Linked DNA regions of Homo sapiens. The protein of the gene in region 3 purifies or fractionates together with the protein of the main gene of each other region. This does not show direct contact. Each region holds a gene or a part of one and is shown on either strand. Other genes may lie near its edges.

What was found.
Region 1: the proteins of MPP2 (region 3) and GID4 purify together in Homo sapiens (affinity purification with mass spectrometry; 2 studies listed by BioGRID and IntAct, with this or other methods). This does not show direct contact.
Region 2: the proteins of MPP2 (region 3) and ABLIM1 purify together in Homo sapiens (co-immunoprecipitation; 2 studies listed by BioGRID and IntAct, with this or other methods). This does not show direct contact.

Annotation. Positions count from the first base shown.
Region 1 is NC_000017.11:18,063,337-18,068,947, reverse strand, and holds the end of GID4 (glucose-induced degradation protein 4 homolog), read right to left. Parts: intron 3,769-5,611; coding exon 3,705-3,768; 3' UTR 543-3,704; downstream 1-542.
Region 2 is NC_000010.11:114,648,180-114,655,292, reverse strand, and holds part of ABLIM1 (actin-binding LIM protein 1), read left to right. Parts: intron 1-7,113. UniProt on the Homo sapiens protein: May act as scaffold protein. May play a role in the development of the retina. Has been suggested to play a role in axon guidance.
Region 3 is NC_000017.11:43,897,444-43,904,556, forward strand, and holds part of MPP2 (MAGUK p55 subfamily member 2), read right to left. Parts: intron 7,051-7,113; coding exon of another isoform or gene 7,018-7,050; coding exon 6,987-7,017; intron 4,122-6,986; exon of another isoform or gene 3,841-4,121; intron 3,182-3,840; exon of another isoform or gene 3,110-3,181; coding exon of another isoform or gene 3,028-3,109; intron 938-3,027; coding exon 819-937; intron 1-818. UniProt on the Homo sapiens protein: Postsynaptic MAGUK scaffold protein that links CADM1 cell adhesion molecules to core components of the postsynaptic density. In CA1 pyramidal neurons, required for synaptic KCNN2-containing channel function and long-term potentiation expression.

The DNA.
Region 1 (5,611 bases), about 26 Mb from region 3:
CCAGTCATGTTCCTTCAAGCCTCCTAGGGAGGTGGGACCTGAAACGTAACAGAATGGTTTGTCAGAATAAACTGTAATGGCTGATTTAGGGATCCTGCTATTTGGGGGTCCAAGTGCCTGTGCTTTGAGACTTAGGCATCTTCTCTGAGGACCACAGTCACAGTGTCGAGAGCAGCCCAACAGCATTGCCTGTCCCCACACCAGAACACAAAGCAGGCTTTGGACAGATACCTCTGCCTGCACATTTTCTCTGTGTTAAATAGAAATATAAACCCTTCACATATGGAAAAAAAAAATGCTTCCACATTTCTGAAGAAATACAGAAATTAACAAAATGGAGCTTGAATAGAAGTGCTGAGCAGCTGAAAACATTCAGAATGAAAAAGGAGCAAGCAGACCACTGCAACAGTTGCCCAGAGGGGCCCTCGGTTTGCCCTGGCACACAGAGGTCTCCGGCTGGCCCTGGAGAGCTCCACAGCCACAGGCCCAGAGAGGACTGCTTTCCTCTAATGGAGCTGCTTTGGTTTACAAATAGGACAAACTCACTGCTTAAATACCTTTATTTTTTTTTTTAAATTATTTGGACATTGATAGCTCTGCAAAATACTTCTCCCATCCCAAACCCTCAAACTCCTTCCACATGTCCTCCATAAAGAAACAAAATATTTATACTTTGTGCCCATTCAAGTCTAATTTTTAAAAACATTTAAGATTCAAAATCAAATATTATTTTTCTTTCCCACAACTTGTTAGTAATTTTAAACCACGATACAACACAGTTAATGGCATTTCTTTTTAAAAATTAGCTTATCAGACTATTTTATGAGAAAAAAATCAATTCAAGGCCTTAGTGAGAATATTATATTCTCTGTTTCTGAAAGCAAAAGACATTGAAAAACCCCTTTGCTCCTCTGGAGTTTGTGATTTCCACATAACCAACAAAACCAGCACACAGATTGACTTCCTACTTAACAGTAGGTATTGTTTTGTTACTTTGGGACAGCAGCTGAAACACTATCTAAACTTGAAAAGGGTGGGTGGGTGGAAGTCCAGCACAGAAGAGGGTCGAGGCTGAGGACAGCAGAATGGAAGCTTTCTGAGCAGTGGAGTAAGAACAGCCAAACCCCTAGGATCCTACCTCATGGCAGGCTTGTTTGGGATGGAAGACAGAACATCTGCAATCTGCACTAATTTCTTAAGGATGGATACAAGTGTCAACCAAAAATATTGCACATAGTTTCAGAGGCATGTAAACCACTGAGAAGGTTCAGGAAAGCGTAACTACGGATGAAGATGATTCCCCAAAGTTCCTTCAGGAACGGAGAGAAAGAAGTTGATGTTGGTAATTCAGGAGTTACTAAGAGGAGGTGGAAAAATCCTTAATCCTTTCCCTATCCTCAGTGGGCAGACTTTTAAATGAACAAATCTTCTCATAGATGTGTCTGAAGGATCTAGTAAAGGTATCACCTCTTCATTCTTCCCAGTACAATGGGTGCACTTCATCACCTGGGTAAAAAAGGAAGGAAGGAAGAAATCCTGCCATAGGACTTGGGTTGTTTGTCTAGAACACAGCAGTGTTTGCAAATGGCCCTTCCTGCCCACTCAAACCACTACTCGGAGCCACAGCATGAGCCGTGGATGAGCTCAGGGATGACCTCCGGACTCAGTGCTCCAAGGGGAGGCCTATATCCCTCACAGGCCTGGAAAAATGCAGAAGGTATGGGCTCGCATGCTGTTGAGGGGAGAGCTGAAGAGAGTGGAATGGCACGTACGGCAGGAAGGACAGCACAGCCCCATGGCCTCCTTCACTTGTCCATCAGCTCAACCAAGGCCATCAGCTCAACAAGACCACAGTGAGCATCTCCTCACATGACAGCAGCTGGGCTTGACCACAGCCAGCCCTTCTGATGCCTTGTTGAATTTCAGGATTGAGGAGACTGTTCTGACTCATCTCTGGGAATGAATTATTTTTCCCTTTAAGTCATCGGGCCAACTTTTTAGGGTTCCAAAGCCCTGACCTTCCTGAATGGGTAGGTTGCCCCTCTGTACACAGTCCTGGGATAACAGATTTTAGATATCACAAGTGCCCACTGGCTACTTTCCCAAATACCTCTACCTTAAGGCTTCCCCTAACATTCAATCTCAGTAACATACAGTACATATGTCAATAAAATTAAAGTCACTTCTTAAGAACAGAAAAGGTTTCCCATTGCTCGTCTCGTCTCACTGAAGGGCTTCACATTCTCTTATGCTGCCCGCCCATGGATATGCAGCCTCCAGGTTGCTTTGCTCCTGGGGGTTATGATGCAATCTTGTTTTTAAAGCTTTTCCTCTTGTATTCGGAGTAAGTCTTGTAAACCACCAGAAAAATGCCAAATCCCCAAAGCCCTAGCCATGTTTGTGGGCTACAACTGATGCCAACCTATTAAGCTTTTAAAACATTTAAAAAAACAAAACATCATACACACACACACACACACACACACACACACACACTTTGGCACGTGAGCCTCGAGTTATTTGAGCATGTTCATGTTTCCCACCCCTTCCCCTGTCCCAACATTTCAGAGTCACTGTTTTCAGAGAACGACGACCCCTTCTGCCTCATGGAAGGCTGCCGCCAAGCATTGCTGTTTTGAGTAGCAAAAGGAGGCGGCACAAATGCTAAACTGGCCCCAAAAACAGTTCTTGTGTTGAGCACTATAATTTAGGCAATGCTGCAAAACTTTTGTACCAGGATGACTAGTTTCAAAACTGCTGGTTGATTAAATATACATATACATATAGATATCGATATAAAAATTACTAAGTCAACATTTGCTGTTTTCAATGTGAAAACGATAAAATGTAATTCTGAATAATTGTGCATTTGCCATAGGGTCCTCGTTAAAGGGACCATAAAAATAATTTTGTAATAAAAAAACTCTTATTTTTAAGTTTAGTATTGCCCTCAAGTTGAAAAGTTTGGAGCAAATGTACTGAGTAAGCAGGACTGGAATCTGTTCCTGCCAGGGATCTGGAAGCCTTAAATTTAGTGATCCCTGATGGCAGGCCCAGGGAACCTGACAGCTACTCACTAGCTTTGCACTGTTAACAGTACAGGGCTCAGCAGCGCACGCTGACCCGTGACACAATCAGCACTGAAGACTGAGGCAGCCCAGCAGGGACTGGAGCCTCCGCCTCTTGTGCCCTTGGTGGCCGATGATGCGGCAGCTGGCCAACTCCCTGCACAGAGCTCTGGGGGGCACAGAGGTGCTGGGGCTCTGCCTTCTCTTGAGCTACCAGACAAAGCAACTGGCGGGGGGTGGGGGTCTAGGGCCTCGGGACCACTGAGCACCAAGGCTGAGGGTGATCCGGGAGCAGACCTTCTATTCGGCTGGAGGTGGGACGGAGGAAGGAATGGGCATTTCAGTGATGTAGAAGTTAGCTGTGCAGGAAGGAAAAGTGCGTTTAAGGTAGCTTAAAAACAGGTGAAGACCAAACTGCCACTGAGGGGAGGAAGAACGAAGACTGCTCCCTCCACCTGCCCCACGGGCCAGCCATGCTCCTTGGATTCTGTGGGTTAACATTCATGCTTTGTGATGCGAGTCTGCTCGTGAAGAAACAGGAACACACTTCTCCTGGTTCTGGCAGGTACACAATTTTCTCGGCAAAGTTCTTTTTTGCCAAGTTCAGTTTTATTTGGTTGCTGTTCTGAACCGTTGTCACCGGAATTCATAGATGGGTGCACTGTGTTCAGGAACATGGGTTAGATTGAGGGACTGATACCTGCAAGGGGGAGGAGACAGAAACGGGAGGTAGTCATCTAATGCACCCTGAGCAAAGGACATTAGTAACCCCTCAAAAAGCAGAGCACCCAACAAGTCACATACTTGGACTGAAATGCACATTCATTTTCTATTTCTCAAGTTGAACCTAGTTTGATTTCATTCATTCTTTCTTTTTTTGGTTAATCCTCCTGAACCATGCACTAGATGAATGTTTTTTTTCATTCTGCTCTAATCATGAAGTTAACTATGGTATGTTTTATAAAAAGGAGACCTCAATAAGCTGTGGGAGAAGATGGAGACCCACGCCCAAGCCCTAACCTCACCGGCTGCTCTGACCTCTCCTGCTGTAGCATGTAATGCCAGGCTCTCATATCCTAAGAACTTTATGGCTAGCATAGGCATAAACTGATTCTCATGGTATCTAAAGAGAGCGTAGAAAAATTCATTTCACTACTGCCTTAAACTGTATTTTACCTTTCATTTAAATTTTCTCACTTTCCTAGGTACGGTATTAGGCTTGGAAAACATTAGTGATATCTGAGGTGTTTGCCTCCCCTGTTGGCAGGTGATCCAGGGAGTCATGCAGAGGGAGGAGAAATAGGGGCAGACAATCTACATGCTGGGATGACAACCTCGGGCACATTTAGAGTCAATGTCTAGCAAGTTGGCTCTCCCCTACTTGTTTCATACAGGAGTGTGGAAGAACGTAGGAAAAAGCGGCTTATTTCTTACCAAAAACAAATTATCAGGAAAGAAATATGCATTAGCCATCAAAAATATGCAAATTAGAACTACAATGAAATACTGCTTCACATCCACTAGGGTAGCTATAATTATAGAGACATGATAACAAGTGCCAGGGAGGATGTGGAGAAACTGGAACCCTCATACATGCCGGTAGGAATGCAAAATGGTGCAGCTGCTGTGGGAAACAGTTTGGCAGTTCCTCATAAAGTTAAATATAGCAATACCGTATGACCTAGCAATTTCACTCCTAGGTATATGTCCAAGGAATTGAAAGCAGGAACTCAGATATACCCATGTTCACAGCAGCATTATTCACAAGAGCTAAACAATGGAAGCAATCTAAGTGTCCACTAAATAATGAATGGATAAATAAAATGTGGTATATACCGGCCGGGCACGGTGGCTCACACCTATAATCCCAGCACTTTGGGAGGCCGAGGCGGGTGGAACACCTGAGGTCAGGAGTTCGAGACAGGCCTGGCCAACATGGCAAAACCCCGTCTCTACTAAAAATACAAAACTTAGCCAGACGTGGTGGCAGGCGCCTGTAATCCTAGCTACTCGGGAGGCTGAGGCAGGAGAATTGCTTGAACCTGGGAGGCGGAGGTTGCAGTGAGCCGAGATCGTGCCACTGAACTCCAGCCTGGGGGACAAGAGCGAGACTTTGTTTCAAAAAAAAAGTTGTATATACCTGTAATGGAAAATTAATTGGCAATAAAAAAGAAGTTCTGATACATGGTACAACATGAATGAACCTTCAAAGCATTATGCTAAGTGAAAAAAGCCAGAAGCAAGGGCCGTATTTTGTAGATTCCATTTATATAAAATACCCAGAATAGGCAAATCTATACATACATAAGAGAAAGACTAGTGGTTGCCCAGGGCTCAGAGGGGATGAGGAGTTTGGGATAATGGCTAAGGGTATGGGGTTTCCTCTTATGGTGATGAAAATGTTCTAAACTTGATAGTTAGACAACTCTATTAATATAGGAAAGATCACTGACTTGTACACTTTTTTTTTGAGATGCAGTCTCACTCTGTCGCCCAGGCTGGAGTGCAGTGGTGCAATCTCGGCCCACCGCAACCTCCGCCTC
Region 2 (7,113 bases), on a different chromosome or scaffold from region 3:
AGGAAAGGTAATCATCATTGGGATATCCATATCTTAGTGGAGGCAGATAAGGAAATCTGGGAGATTAGTTAAGTGTGGCTTTGAGGTTGGACATTCCAGAATTTGACTCCCAGCTCTTCTACTCACTAAATGTGTTACTTTGGGAAGTTAGTGATTCCAAGTGCGTTTCTCTGTCCCTAAGGTAGGCAGGGAATGCATACCTTATAGGATTGCTTTGAGCAGGCCTATCCCTAGAGTAGATGGGGCCCTGGGCAGATTTTTTTTGTAGGGCTCCTGTCTATATAAACAATTTGAGTCACCCAAAGCAGTGTGTCAACAGCTCAATCTGTTTCAGTCTTGGGAAAGAAATGCCACACCAGCCTGAGGAAGTGATTGCTTGCTAGGCTTGTCCCCTAGAATGGAGCCAGCTCCAGGGCCCCAAGAAACCCATTGGCATGACTCCTGGGGCTCCTTGGGGCATCTGGCCAACCCCTTGCACAGTATGGGAGAGATGCAGAGGATCACTAGAGAGATCTGTGAAGAGGAGGCTCAGATTCCCCATCCAGACAGCACTGCTGGCCCCAGCGATCCCAGGTACCAGAGCGCACTTAGACATTTTTGAGGAAGGAATGGGGTTAGGGCAGGGGCCCTGCTTGCGTGTGTCTAAGGGCAGTATTGATTATGAGAACTAAATGAGAACCTGGCTGGGCATGGTGGTGTGGGCCTATAGTACCAGCTACTTGAGAGGCTGAGGCAGGAGGATCACTTGGGCCTAGGAGTTCAAGACCAGCCTGGGCAAACTTGCAAGACCCTATCTCAATTTTAAAAATTGTAAAAAAAGATAAAAATAAATTTAAAGAATGAGAACGTGCATATCAAAGTGTTTGGTATAGTGGCACACAAAAGCATCCACTAAATGTTAATTTCAGTAATAATAATAGAATTGCAATATAGTCAGCATTAGTCATTTTTGACAGTCTCTATGGAGGCTGAATTAAAATAATAAAATAAGAAAAAATTGTTTATTATTGTTAAAAATAATTTCTATTGTTTGCCTTCCATGCTGTGAAACAATAGAGGCCCAGAACTATAGATGCTGCACAGGACGTGGGATTCCCAGAAAGCCACTGTGTGTTCAGAGCATCCTGTTTAGGACAGGTGCTTGGAGGAAGTGCGCCCTCCTGCAGCCATGCATGTTCCTGTGCTACGAAGCCCCAGAGTGTTCAGGAGCAGCTCCTGGCAGGGTGCTTGGGAATATTTGGCAAAGGCCTCCTCCAGCTGCCAGAAAGATCTCACGATGCTGCAGCTTCCTGTTATTGTCTGGTGCTCAATCCCTGCTTTGAGTTGTGCTGGACTCCATGATTTTCCAAGTGTCCCCATGCATATGTGTCCTTTGTAAAGCTCAAAACAACCCTTGGATGTTGCAAGGGAAGAAATTGTTTTCCCCCACTTAACAACAGCAATGAGTTAGCAAGAAGATGGGAAAAGTGGGCAAAACAAATATATCAGTGAACATACAAAATAGCTTCCGCAAAAATATATCAGTGGGCATATATCAGTGAAATAGATCTGTGAATATACAAAATAGCTTCTGCAAAAATATATCAGTGAGCATATATCAATGAAATAGATCAGTAAACGTACGAAACAGCCTCTGCAGCTTCTGACTGTAGATGTAGTACTGTTCTTGAAGAACGGCTGTCATTCATTGAGGGCCTACTATATCTCAAACATTGTGATAAGTGTCTTTTTTTGTTTGGTTTTGTTTCTGAGACAGGGCCTCCCTCTGTCTCTGAGGCTGGAGTGCAGTGGTGAGAACAGGGCTCACTTCAGCCTTCACCTCTTGAGCTCAAGTGATCTTCTTGCCTCAGCCTCCCATGTAGCTGGAACCACAGGCGCATGCTACCAGGCCTGGCTAATTCTTTGATTTTTTTTTTAGAGACAGGGTCTCACTTTGTTGCCCAGGCTGGTTTAAAACTCCTGACCTCCAACAGTCCTCCTGCTTTGGCTTCCCAAAGTGTTGAGATTACAGGCGCAAGCCACCATACCTCGCCTGTGCCAAGTGTTTCATGATTTTTCCATGTTTGATATTCTCAATGACTCAACAAAGCAGGAATTACTTTTATCTCATTTTACAGAGAAGGAAACTGGGGCATATGCAGTTAAGAGACCTGCCAAAGGTCACATAAGTACTAGATTTGGGCTTAGGTCTGCCTGACACCCAGGTTCGTGGTCTCAACCATGATGTCACTCTGCCTCAGCCTGAGGAGCATAAGAGTGGGTCATTCATGAGGTACGCTGAACACTGGCACACCTAAAGTTTGTAAATAATATTGCTAATTACGTACTTCAGCAACTCAAATTTGAAGACTCCCATAAAGTATATTGCTGTTGCCAGGAAAATTAGCAAAGATTTCCTTCCTCTAGCTCGTAAATACAAGCTGTCTGTATGGAATGTTCCCTTACTCTCCTGTAGGAAATTAGAGTGAAGTTTTTGAACCTGTGTTTCTTTCTGTCCTTTGGAGCTTTTGGGTCTCATACAAACGAAAGAACATATTTAGGGCGATTACCTTCTTGACAAACAAACAAGAGACTGGCACTATTATCAAAAGCCCCAAGGATATCTGGAGAGGATTCAGTGATTATGTTGTCAGCTGAGTCCAAATCCCAAAGCAGAATGTTCTGGACTGGAGAGCAGGGACCAAAGTAGACTTGGCAGTCCCCTCCCTGGAAAAGCAGTTCATATCCCAGAAGAGAGAAAGGTGGTTCATGTCTGATTCAGGCACCTGCTGAGACCTTTCTGTTACATGCAGCACACCAGGTGTTGTCTTCACTCGGAATGGTTTCCCAAGACCCAGATACTCAGGGTATCACGTAAGTGAGAGAACCTCTTGGGTACATTATTGTTTCTTAAAGCAATACCAACCTGTTTTCAAACTAAGTAGAACATATAACACTATAATATTTTTCTTTTAGTGTGCCCTTCTTACCCCATTCACTAATCCGCAACCCCAGACCTGTATGTCAGAGGGCTAGGGGAAGCGTCTTGGGTATAGTAGGCCATAGGCCACAAATGGCTTTGTTGTCAAAAAGACAGCATATTCTTCAAGATGCTGTGGAGCTTTTCTATAGCATCTTCCTGGTAACATTGAGAGTCTGTGTCAGGGAAAAGGTTTTAATTCTCTCCAAACCCTGAAACTCAGCTGTGAAGGCCCTCTATTACATTTGAGAGAAGTGTTTGAGCTAGCCATAAAAAATACATCCTGGGAAAGTTGGTAAGAAGGACCAGCATGTGGTTCCTGCCCTCAGACCCGCTCTCCTGACTGATGGCTTTGACTAGGCTACTTTGAGAGGCAAAGTAGTGACCGGCATCTGCTGCTGGCAAGGAGACACACTGTGTTGTGGCCTCCTGTTCCTCCAGCATGCTGGGTCCCCAGGGCCTCATCCGGTTTGTTGATGGGATATGGTTCCCCCCAAACAGCAGTCTTACTTTAACTTTTGTTCTCCTGAGGATGGAGATGATAGGTGGTGGCCAGTTACTTCTACATCTTGCAAGGGCATGAATGGAGAGGGATTTGAGGTTTCAGCTATTTGGGAAAGCATTAGATAGTTTGCATTTTTTTTTTATTTATAGTTACCAATAACCCCTTTTCAATTCCCTAGGCTTCTCATTCCATTAGTTTAATCATATTTCCCAGAATCATACGTTTCAAGCTCTTGACGGTTAAGCCTTTCTATCACGTCCCACTCTTAACCCCCAAACACCCGCATCAGTCTTCTTTGTCACAGATGTTTGAAGGATGCTTTCACGTTGGGCCTCTCTTTGTATGTGCAATTCTGCTGCCTGGCACAGTCTCCCCAGTTTCTCTGAGGCCCAGCAGGCTGCAGGTTAAGCTTTTCCTCCTCTGGGCCGGCCTGATCTTACCTCTTGCCTCGTCCTCCTCTGTGTTTTCATAGCATCCTCTGCACATCTTTGTTCAAGTTGCCTGTTTATAAGCTTCTCCCTTTTCATACACTGAGGTCCTCTCTGAGGGCAAGGAGAGAGCTGTGCTCTTATTTTTATTCCATTATAGTACCTGGCATGGAAAAAAAGCTGTGAGTGATGAGTAAATGAATGAGTGAATGTTCGCAGAAATCAAATCACTATGTTCGAAGAATACAATTCGGCATTAAATTGTCCCCCTGCCTTCAAGTAGCTGAGGCCAGGAGAAGCTGCAAAGCAAACTGGTTGCAAATTCAGGGTTATGGGGTCAGACCTCGCTGCCAAGTTCAAAGTCCAGCTCTGCTCTTTGCAGTTCTGTGACCTGGGCAAGTGACTTAATATGTCCGAGCCTTAGTTTTCTCGTATATAAAATGTGGATAATACTACCCACATTGCAGCGGTATTATGAGCCCTAAGAGAAAATACGTATTTTAGAAATGCTGGCATTTAGTTGGAGCTCGATAAATACTTCCCCCTCTTCTTCTCACCCAAATGTGTGAGAAGTTGAATAATTGTCTAGATAACAAATACAATTAGTTTTCAAAGGAAAGAAATATCACTGAAGGGAAAGAGAAAGTAGGATTTGCGATTTGAGCTGTAAAATAGATATGATTTACCCAAAATACGAGTAAAAGGAAAATAGCCCAATGATCTGAGAGTGGAAAGAAAAAGGTAGAAGTAAGACACTTTTCACCTAGTTCCACTGGCTGAATCTACTTGGTCCAGCTTTTTTTTTGTTTTATTGATGGTTGCTTTTTGTTTTGTTTATTTTATTTTTAGTCCTAGGAATGTGGGCAAGTAACTATTTTCACATGAAATGTTCCCATGTAAATTACTTCCTTGAGTGAGTAAATATGCTGCAATGCCCCATTCGTTTTAATTAAATGTACTTAAAAACTAATCTTATTTAAAGTCAGAGGGTAAAGCAGTCTGTTTAAGTTTATTGTTTGGCATTGTTTTAATCCAGGCTTTAAACAAATTTGAATCTTACTAAGAGTGGCTTACTTTCAAAGAAATCCCTGATTTCCCATCCTTTGATCCTAATGATTCTGGGGCATGACCCAGTGCTGATTATTATGGATGGACTCCTGTTAACTTGGCAAATCAGCCATGGACCTGTGACGGCCATGGGTACAAGACAAAGCTGCTAACAGAAAGGGAATATGGATTGTGTGGAGGCTGGGCACAGTGGCTCACGCCTGTAATCCCAGCACTTTGGGAGGCCGAGATGGGTGAATCACGAGGTCAGGAGGTCGAGACCAGCCTGGCCAACATAGTGAAACCCCGTCTCTACTAAAAAATACAAAAATTAGCCTGGCATGGTGGTGGGCGCCTGTAGTCCCAGCTACTCAGGAGGCTGAGGCTGGGAAATTGCTTGAACCTGGGAGGCAGAGGTTGCAGTGAGCCGAGATAGCACTACTGCACTCCAGCCTGGACAACAAAGTGAGACTTTGTCTCAAAAAAAAAAAGAAAAAAAAGAGGGGGGATATGGATTGTGTGTTACTCATTGGGGTGGACAGGTGGCCAGCACAGGCTTGATTTGTCTATGGACTACAAGACGAAGGCTACCAGTAGGAAGGTAATATAAGGTGAATACGTGGTCAGCAGATGGGTGATTCTGTCCCTGGGGTGGAAGATGAAGGCTGCCAACAGGAAGGAAGCATAGTCTGTGTGCTGTTTGTTAGGGCGTGTAGAGGTAGCCAGCAGGAAGATTCCTTTCTCAATCTCAGAAAGCAGCACACCCAGAATACACTAGAGAAACCCTTTGCAGAATCAGGATTTAAGTATGTCAGGATTTTAGATAGACTATGATATGATATGCACGAGGATTCTAGATATTTCTCAAAGGTAGAAATAAACCTTTGATATCAACACCTTTATTTATTTATTTATTTATTTATTTATTTATTTATTTATTTATTTATTTATTTTGACAGAGTCTTGCTCTGTCACCCAGGCTGGAGCACACTGGTGTGATCTTGGCTCACTGCAGCCTCTGCCTCCCGGGTTCCAGCGATTCTCTGTGCCTCCGCCTTCTGGGTGGCTAGGATTACAGGCATGCACCACCATGCCTGGCTAATATTTTTGTATTTTTAGTAGAGATGGGGTTTCACCATGTTGGCCAAAGCTGGTCTTGAACTCCTGACCTCAAATGACCTGCCCGCCTCGGCCTCCCAAAGCACTGGGGTTATAGGTGTGAGCCACCGTGCCCAGCCAACACCTTACTTTTGTAGGAAGTAAGAGACTGAGGTCCAGAGAAGTAAATGACTTTCCTAAGGTCTATGGTATAATCAGAGGGTAGTGTTAGATTAAGACCCTAGCTCTCCTCTCTCCCTGTTTGATATTACATGAGAAGACCAAAGGATTATTAATTTTTTTTTTTAAGTTCAGTTGGAGATTCAGCTCGGGTGAAACTTTCCTGTGGAGTCTCTCCAGACCTCTCCTCTTTTGGGCTCTGCTGTGTACCACACAAATGCCCATCCAAGCACCTCTATGCTTGGCTATTTGTATCTGTTTGTTTGCGTGTCTCCCTACCAGGTAGTAAGTGCCTTAGTGGCAGGACAGTTGTTTCCGTGGTTTCTTCAGACTATAACGCAGTGCTTGGTAAGTAAAGGTACTTCATACATTTTAAAATGGAGATGTAATGTAGTACACCATAACATTCACCACTTTAACATTTACGAGCCTGTGCATTTTAGTAGAACCACGAAGTTGTGCAACCATCCCACTATCTAATTCCAGAGCATTTTTATCAGCCCAGAAAGAAACCTTGTGCCCGTTAGAAAACATCCCTGATGACTCACATTCCTCAGCTGCTGGCAACGACTTATCTCCTTTAGGTGTTTGTGGGTTTTCCTATTCCAGACATTTCATCTGATTGGAATCATGTAACCTGTGATTTTTGTGTCTAGCTTCTTTTACTTAGTATAATGTTTTTAAGGCTCATCGAGGCGGTAGCATTTATCAATACCGTATTCCTTCTTATGGCTGAATAGTATCCCATTGTAGGGATATATCACATTTTCTTTATCTTTTCGTCAGCCGATGGTCATTTGTGTTGTTCCTGCTTTCTGGCTATTATGAATAATGCTGCTATGAACACTTGTTACATGTTTTTGTGTGAACGTGTTTTCAGTCCCCTTGGGTATATA
Region 3 (7,113 bases):
GCACTCCAGCCTGGGCAACAAGAGCAAAACTCCTTCTCAAAACAAAACAAAACAAAAAAAACCATAAAGCCTCCCTGATACTCACAGAAGGATGCCCAAGCACCCACATACAGCCCCCAGTGCCCTCCAGACCTGCCAACCTTTGCACAGCTCGCATTGTCTTACACTTGAGGCTCAGCCTCACACCAGCCCTTCCAATCCCCTGCACACTCCTGACTCTTTCTTACCTCTGTGCTTCTGCTCAAGCTCTTCTGTGGCCCAGAATGCCCTCCCCCTCTTCCTCATTCTTCCACTCAGCTCAAGTGGTCCTTCCTCCAGGAAGCCCTCCTCACCCACCCCAGGCTGGGTTAGACACCTGTCCTTTATGCTCCCAAAATGCATAGTGTATCCACCTCTATCACTGTCATTACCAAATTGTCCTATAATTTTCTCTTTTAGTCAATCTCTCCCCAACCTGATACATGGCAGGTGACCTTAGAAAGACATACACACAAAACGCCCAAAGGCAGAAGGACAGGCAAGATGAATTCTAGAGATTCTCCAACATGTGCATGCTAGCCCGCACCAATCACACACTCCACAAGCTGGCAGTCAACAAACATCCACCCACGCACTCACCAGACAGGTGTGGGGGCAGCCCCCTCTACCTGCAGCCACTCAGGTCATCACCTGGGCATGATTTTCTTCTACAATCCCCTTCAGGGGGGCCTCTTGTGCCACATGTCCCATTCCCAAAGCCCTCTGTAGCTAATACCCCATCCCCTACTGTGCCTCCCCAAGCACAGTGCCCTTGTGCCCACCTCCCTGGAGCACTGTACCTTGGCCAGGGATCTTACTATGGGACTTTCCATAATGCCTCGAAGGAAGATCAGGTCCAGCTCTGCAGCCCCCGTGGCACTGGGGAGGGATCCCAAGTTGTCCAGGACTTGCTGCATGGCTGGGGGAAGGTACGGGCAGTGAGATACACAGGTACCAGCTGGGTACAGAAGACCAAAACACACCACAATACTTGCCACTTCCCCACCCCCATGTCCCACAGAAGGCAGCCCCTCCCCGGCAACATTCCCCTCCCTGCCCAGCACAGGCACCCCAGGCCCTTGAATGCCTGGGACAGGGATCCTGGAGGAAGGGGACAATTTCCTTGGCCTGTTCTCTCCACCCTAGGTAATGCCAGCCTGAGCAGGTGGGAGGCTCCAGGCAGCTGGAAGAGACTCTGAGGTGGAGAGAAGGGAGAAAGGGAAGCAGGTGTCAGGTTGCAGATCCTGCCCTGCACCAGAAAACCACAAGCTGTTGGGTGGATCACTTGAGGCCAGGAGTTCAAGACCAGCCTGGGCAACAAGGCAAAACCCCATCTCTACTAAAAATACCAAAATTAGCCAGGCATAGTGGTGTAGGTCTGTAATTCTAGCTACTCAGGAGGCTGAGGCAGGAGAACTGCTTGAACCTGTGAGGCAGAGATTGCAGTGAGCTGAGATCACGCCACTGCACTCCAGCCTGGGTGGCAGAGCAAGACTGTCTCTGGCCGGGCGCGGTGGCTCACGCCTGTAATCCCAGCACTTTGGGAGGCCGAAGCGGGTGGATTGCCTGAGGTCAAGAGTTCAAGACCAGCCTGGCCAACACAGGGAAACCCTGTCTCTACTAAAAATACAAAAAATTAGCTGGGCGTAGTGGCAGGCGCCTGTAATCCCAGCTACTCGGGAGGCTGAGGCAGGAAAATCGCTTGAACCCAGGAGGCGGAGGTTGCAGTAAGCTGAGATCCTGCCATTGCCCTCCATCCTGGGCGACAGAGCAAGACTCCGTCTCAAAAAAAAAAAAAAGAAAAAGAAAAGAAAACCACAAGCTCCTCACTCAACCTCTAGATGGGCTGAAGCCCAGGGCTCAGCCACCTGTACCTGGCAGGCTCAAGGATGAGACAGACAGTACTCGGAGCAAGTCCGTGAGTACAGGCCCAGAGTCAAGCAGGCAGCCACACAGGAGCCAGGGCCTGCAGCCTCCAGTCTAAGCACCACTAATTCAGTGTGACATTGTACAAGTCACTGTCCCTCACTGGCCTCAGTCTTTCCTGCCTGTAAAATGGATGGATTGGGCTAGATGATGTTTACAGGCCTTCAGCTCTGAGTGACAATGATCTATAATCACTGAGAAATTAACATGGATGATAGGAAGTCAAAGCTGAGGCCTGGAACGCTGGCAGGAGCTAGGGAAACAGGCACTGGAGGCCTTGGTGTGACCCAAAGGCTGAGGTCACACCAAGTCATCACAGGGATAAGCAAACTCTCAGCCCGAAATGGGACATAATGGAGGACACGATAACACCTGCAGCTGGGCCGCAACAATGCCCCCGAGACCTGAGGTGAGGGCTGCCTTCACTCACTGACAGAGGTGGGAGTTCCAGGCTGTGGCAAGTTCCGGGGAAAGGAAGCGAGAAGCAGAATGTGCCCAGCTGGGGGCAGAGATGGGCGAAGGGTATCATTACTCTGCCACCATGCCGCCCATGCCTACATCTGCATAACAGTACCCAAGCCACGGAGGACGGCGGAGGATGCACCCCTGGCGCCTCTCAATGCTCTTGTCAGTGCCCCCCTCCTCCAGGAAGGAACAGGAGTGGGGAGGAGGGGGCACTGGAACTGGAGCTGGCAGAGATGGTTCAGGGACTCCTGGACTCCCATCTCCTTCCTCCTCCTGCTCCCTGCCTTCTCCAGAAAAAAAAGTGCAAGCTTGCCCTTCAGACCCCTCTTGCCCAGGCCGGGGCTTGGCATTGGTCAGAGACCTGCGAGGCCCTCAGTGGGCTCTGAAAGAGGCCAGGGCAGGGACCCTTCCCTTCCTGCCAGGGTATGCCAGATTCCCTCCGTTATCTAGGGGAGGACTGAGCCAAGGGAGTTGGTGCCCTCTGCCCAGGACAGCTCTCCTGAAGGTGCCCTCAGATGACCTCTCCCAGGCCACCCTCCCCAGATGCCCCGACTCTGCTGGAGGAAGGTAGGCTAAGGGGCCAGCTGCCCCGCCCCCATCTGGCCCGCCCTTCCCTACCTTCCCTCTGGAGCTCCGCTTCCTCAGAAGACTCCAGGGATATACCCTCCAAGGAGACCCCGCTGCCTGGGCTGCCTGCCATGGCGGCCCCCAGACCCGGGGACTCCCGGAGCGTCCTACACGCCGCCGTCTACCGCCTCCCCAGCCAAAGCCTGGCCGGGCTGGGGAAGGCGGGAGTCGAGGAGCGCCCTCTGAGGAACCAGCCAATGGGAAGGCTCAGCCGCCGTGACCGCCTTGCTGATTGGCTAAAGCCCTGACTGGCGCTGCGCGGTGCAGAGCAGGCGGTAACCCGGGTGGGAGAAGAGTGGTGGGAGGGAGCCCTAGTCCCACAGATTGCCCGATCCCCAGCATGTCAGTGTCGGTGGGGATGGGGAGGAGGCGGCTAACAGGAAGTTTTGAGGAGGGGGTAGGCATGCTGCCCCTTCAAGACTGGCGCGGTACTCCGAGACCCTCCCCTCACAGCCAGCTTCAGGAGACCCGAGGGAGAAAAGTCTTGGCCCATCTTGTCCCTGTACCCTCTTTTCTAGAAGCCCCTCCTCTAATACACCCCATGCCACCTCCTCCCTATGCCCTCTGACCTCTGCTCTCAGTCCCCTCTCCAGGCCCTGTTTCCTTTACAATAGTCCCTCAGTCTAAGGAAGTCCCCAAGAACGACTCAGCCCTCCACCGGGAGGCAGCCTCACTTGGGCATGGGGCAAATACCTCAAGCCTCAGACGCCTCCCCCTACCCACCCTTGGTCAGCCACTGGGAGGCAGGGTACGTGGGGGAGGTGGCATCGCTGTGGGTAGGGATGGTGCCCCAGCCCTGCTTACCCCTCGCCTCACAGCAGCTTCTTCCCCTCCCCCATCTCCCATGAGTTCTTCCTCTTAATGAAGGGGATGATGCCCAGGAAGCAAGTCAGGCATCTTGGAACTCAGTTCCCCAGAAAGGAAAAATGAGGGCACATTTGCACACAGGGAAAAGTGTGGGCAGAAGGGAAGGACTCAGCTCCGCTCCGGTGACCCCATTCCTCTGAGATCTTGTGCCCAAGAGGCCACCATCAGGGTACTGCAGCCTCCACTCAGACATTCCCTGAGGAGTGGCACCAGGTCGCATTGCACCCCTGGTTGCCATGACAGTAGAATTACACACCAGGACAGTAACCCAGGGATGGAGGAGAGATTTAAAGGGACAGCTCCACCTGAAAGCAGCCACATATCCCAGCCTTGATCCAAAAAAGGGAGGGAATCTGGTGACAGGGGAAGAGGGAGCAAGGCTGCAGGTCAGGAGATGCCAGGTTCAGGATCTCTAAGTTCTCAGCCCAGTGCCACTGTCCATTTATCTCCCAAGTCTCAGGAAAAGGGCCCCTGACTCTACCCAAAGTAGATATGGGGTCTCCCTGCAAGAGGAATACACCCATACCCTTTCCCTCCCTTCAACCATACTGACCCATGGGGAAGGGCGGAAAAAGGATCTTATTAGCTTTGCCCTTTGCAGAGTCCAAGGCAGGGATCTCCCAGGGGAGGAGGAGGGAAGGGGAGCCTGAACTCAGAGGCAGGGACACAGCTGTCTCTCTATCCTGTGGGAAGTATAATGACCACCAGATAATAAGGGGCAGAATCCACCATTAGATTTTTGAAGCTGGGAGCTAATGTAGCTCAGGATAGGACAGAGGCTGCCTGAAGGAAGAAAAACACTTTGTACTTCTTCCTTTGAATATGAGAAGCCAGGAGCAGCCCCTCGAACAACATGAAGGGGAGCAGGAGCCCCAGGAGTCCTTTGAGGAAGCAGAACCCACCGCCACACCCCAAGGCTCCACTCCCTGTCCCCCATCCTCCCCCACCACGCCCCCATCAAGTGGTCTGCAACAACGAAGCCAAATTGCTGGGCTTGCTCCTCCTCCTACGCCCCAGTCAGGCACTATTGGTGGGTTTACTGGGCAGTCCCGGCTGGAGAGGCCATTAAGCACAGGCTCAGGGGTGGGTTTAATTAATGCCTAAGCAGCTTACAGTGGGGCCTAGGCAGGCTGAAAGAGGCAGGGAGACCCCAGGGAGCCCAGCAGGCTGGACAGGAGATGGGGGACTGAGCCCTCTGATGCTGCAGAAGCTGGGGACATTGGTGCCATCCCTCCACTGCAAGGAGAAGAGGCCTTTCCTGGACAAGTGTACCACAGTTTAGGCCCTGGCTCACTCCCTTCACTTTCTCGGAGAGGAGGCACAGAGGAATCATTCTACCCAAAGTGGCAGCCCTGGAACCTCTGGCAGAGGCAGTAGTGGGGCCTAGAGCAAGGGAAGGAGCTGCATGGGAGGGAGGCATCCAGGCAGGGGGAAGTTCAGACAACTCAGAGCAGAACCATAGCAGTTCCCAGCTGCCCGGGCCTCAGAGGGCCTCTAGCACAGGGAACTTAACCTTCTGGGGTCCTGCGTGCACTACGGGAATCCATGATCCCCTAGAGTAGAATATACCTTTTGTGCATGGATGTATATGTCTACGATGAGGGCTCACTGCTGTCACCAGATTCTAAGTGACTCAGGACCAATAAAATTAAGAACAGGCCAGGTGTGGTGGCTCATGCCTGTAATCCCAGCACTTTGGGAGGCCAAGGCAGGTGGATCACCTGAGGTCAGGACAGCCTGGCCAACATGGTGAAACCCAGTCTCTACAAAAATACAAAAATTAGCTGGGCATGATAGCAGGTGCCTGTAATCCCAGCTACTTGGGAGGCTGAGGCAGGAGAATCACTTGAACCTGGGAGGTGAAGGTTGCAGTGAGCCGAGATCCCACCACTGCCCTCCAGCCTGGGCAACAGAGGGAGACTCCATCTCAAAAAAAAAAAAAAAGAAAAAGAAAAAAGTTAAGAACACTGATCTTGTCCCATCATCTCATCTTAGGGAAATCTCAGGTCTTCAAAAGGAGGTGACTGTTTCAAGGACACAGGGTTAATGCCAAAATAACAACTCAGGCCAGGCACAGTGGTTCACACCTGTAATCCCAGTAGTTTGGGAGGTCGAGGCGGGTGGAGTACTTGAGCTCAGGAGTTTGAGACCAGCATGGGCAACATTTTTGTCTTTACGAAAAATACAAAAATTAGCTGGGCATGGTGGTGCACACCTGTAGTCCCAGCTACTTGGGAGGCTGAGGTGGGAGAATGACTTGAGGCTGGTAGGCAGAGGTTGCAGTGAGCCAAGCTTGCGCCACTGCACTCCAGCCTAGGCTAAAGAGCCAGAACTTGTCTCAAAAACAACAACAACAACTTGGTGGCAGCGGCAGCAACAGCAGCATAATAATTATGACTATTCCTAAAAGTAATGTGCTCTCCCATTACAGCCTTTGCGTCTCACAGCAGCCTCTTTACAGAAGAAGAAATGCGAGCTCCAAGAGGTTAAGCAGTTTGCCACTGAGGCTTTGCTAGTTTGTCTGAGTGGCCCACTCCCTTGTCCTAATGCCTCCTACAGAGCCACGTCCAGGTATCCTAACCTGGTATTCTTGTTCCTTCACTCACAGCTTCCTGGTCCCCAGTACCCCCTGTCCACCTCTGGCACATGCTGGCCTAGTGGGCAGCGATTATGGACTTCTCAGCCCCAGGCTGTGCTGCTGTAATCCCTCCACCCCCAAGCCATTCTCCAAGGCCCAGCTCCGGGGCCACCTCCTGAAGGCCTGGTCCTATGCCACTGCCCTCCAGCAATAGTACGGGTCACCTCTGGAGCATGCATCCCCTGCCCTCCACGGAGGTGAGTTGTGCTCCAGCCCTACACTGGAGCAGGTATGGGTCTTATTCTTTCTCTTCTCCGTTCCAGCACAGGAACCCACACAGAGGAGATGGCCACAGCAGCTGCCAGAAGGAATGGCTGAGTGGTAGGGTGGACAGCAGTGGAGCCAGTTGGTTCTTATCTGGAGCTGTGCAAGTGCCCACCCCTAAGTCCTCGCCTGGCACCCTCTGAACCACTGAAATAAGCTAACATCCTCACCCCCTTCTTACCAGTTTCAGAGTTGGTGGCGGCAACCGGCATGGTGAAGGAGGCAAGGGCTCTGAAACGTCTCTCCTGGAGAGGGGAGAGAGGAGGATGAGCAGATACAAGGGCAAAGCAATGGGGAAGGGAATAGGA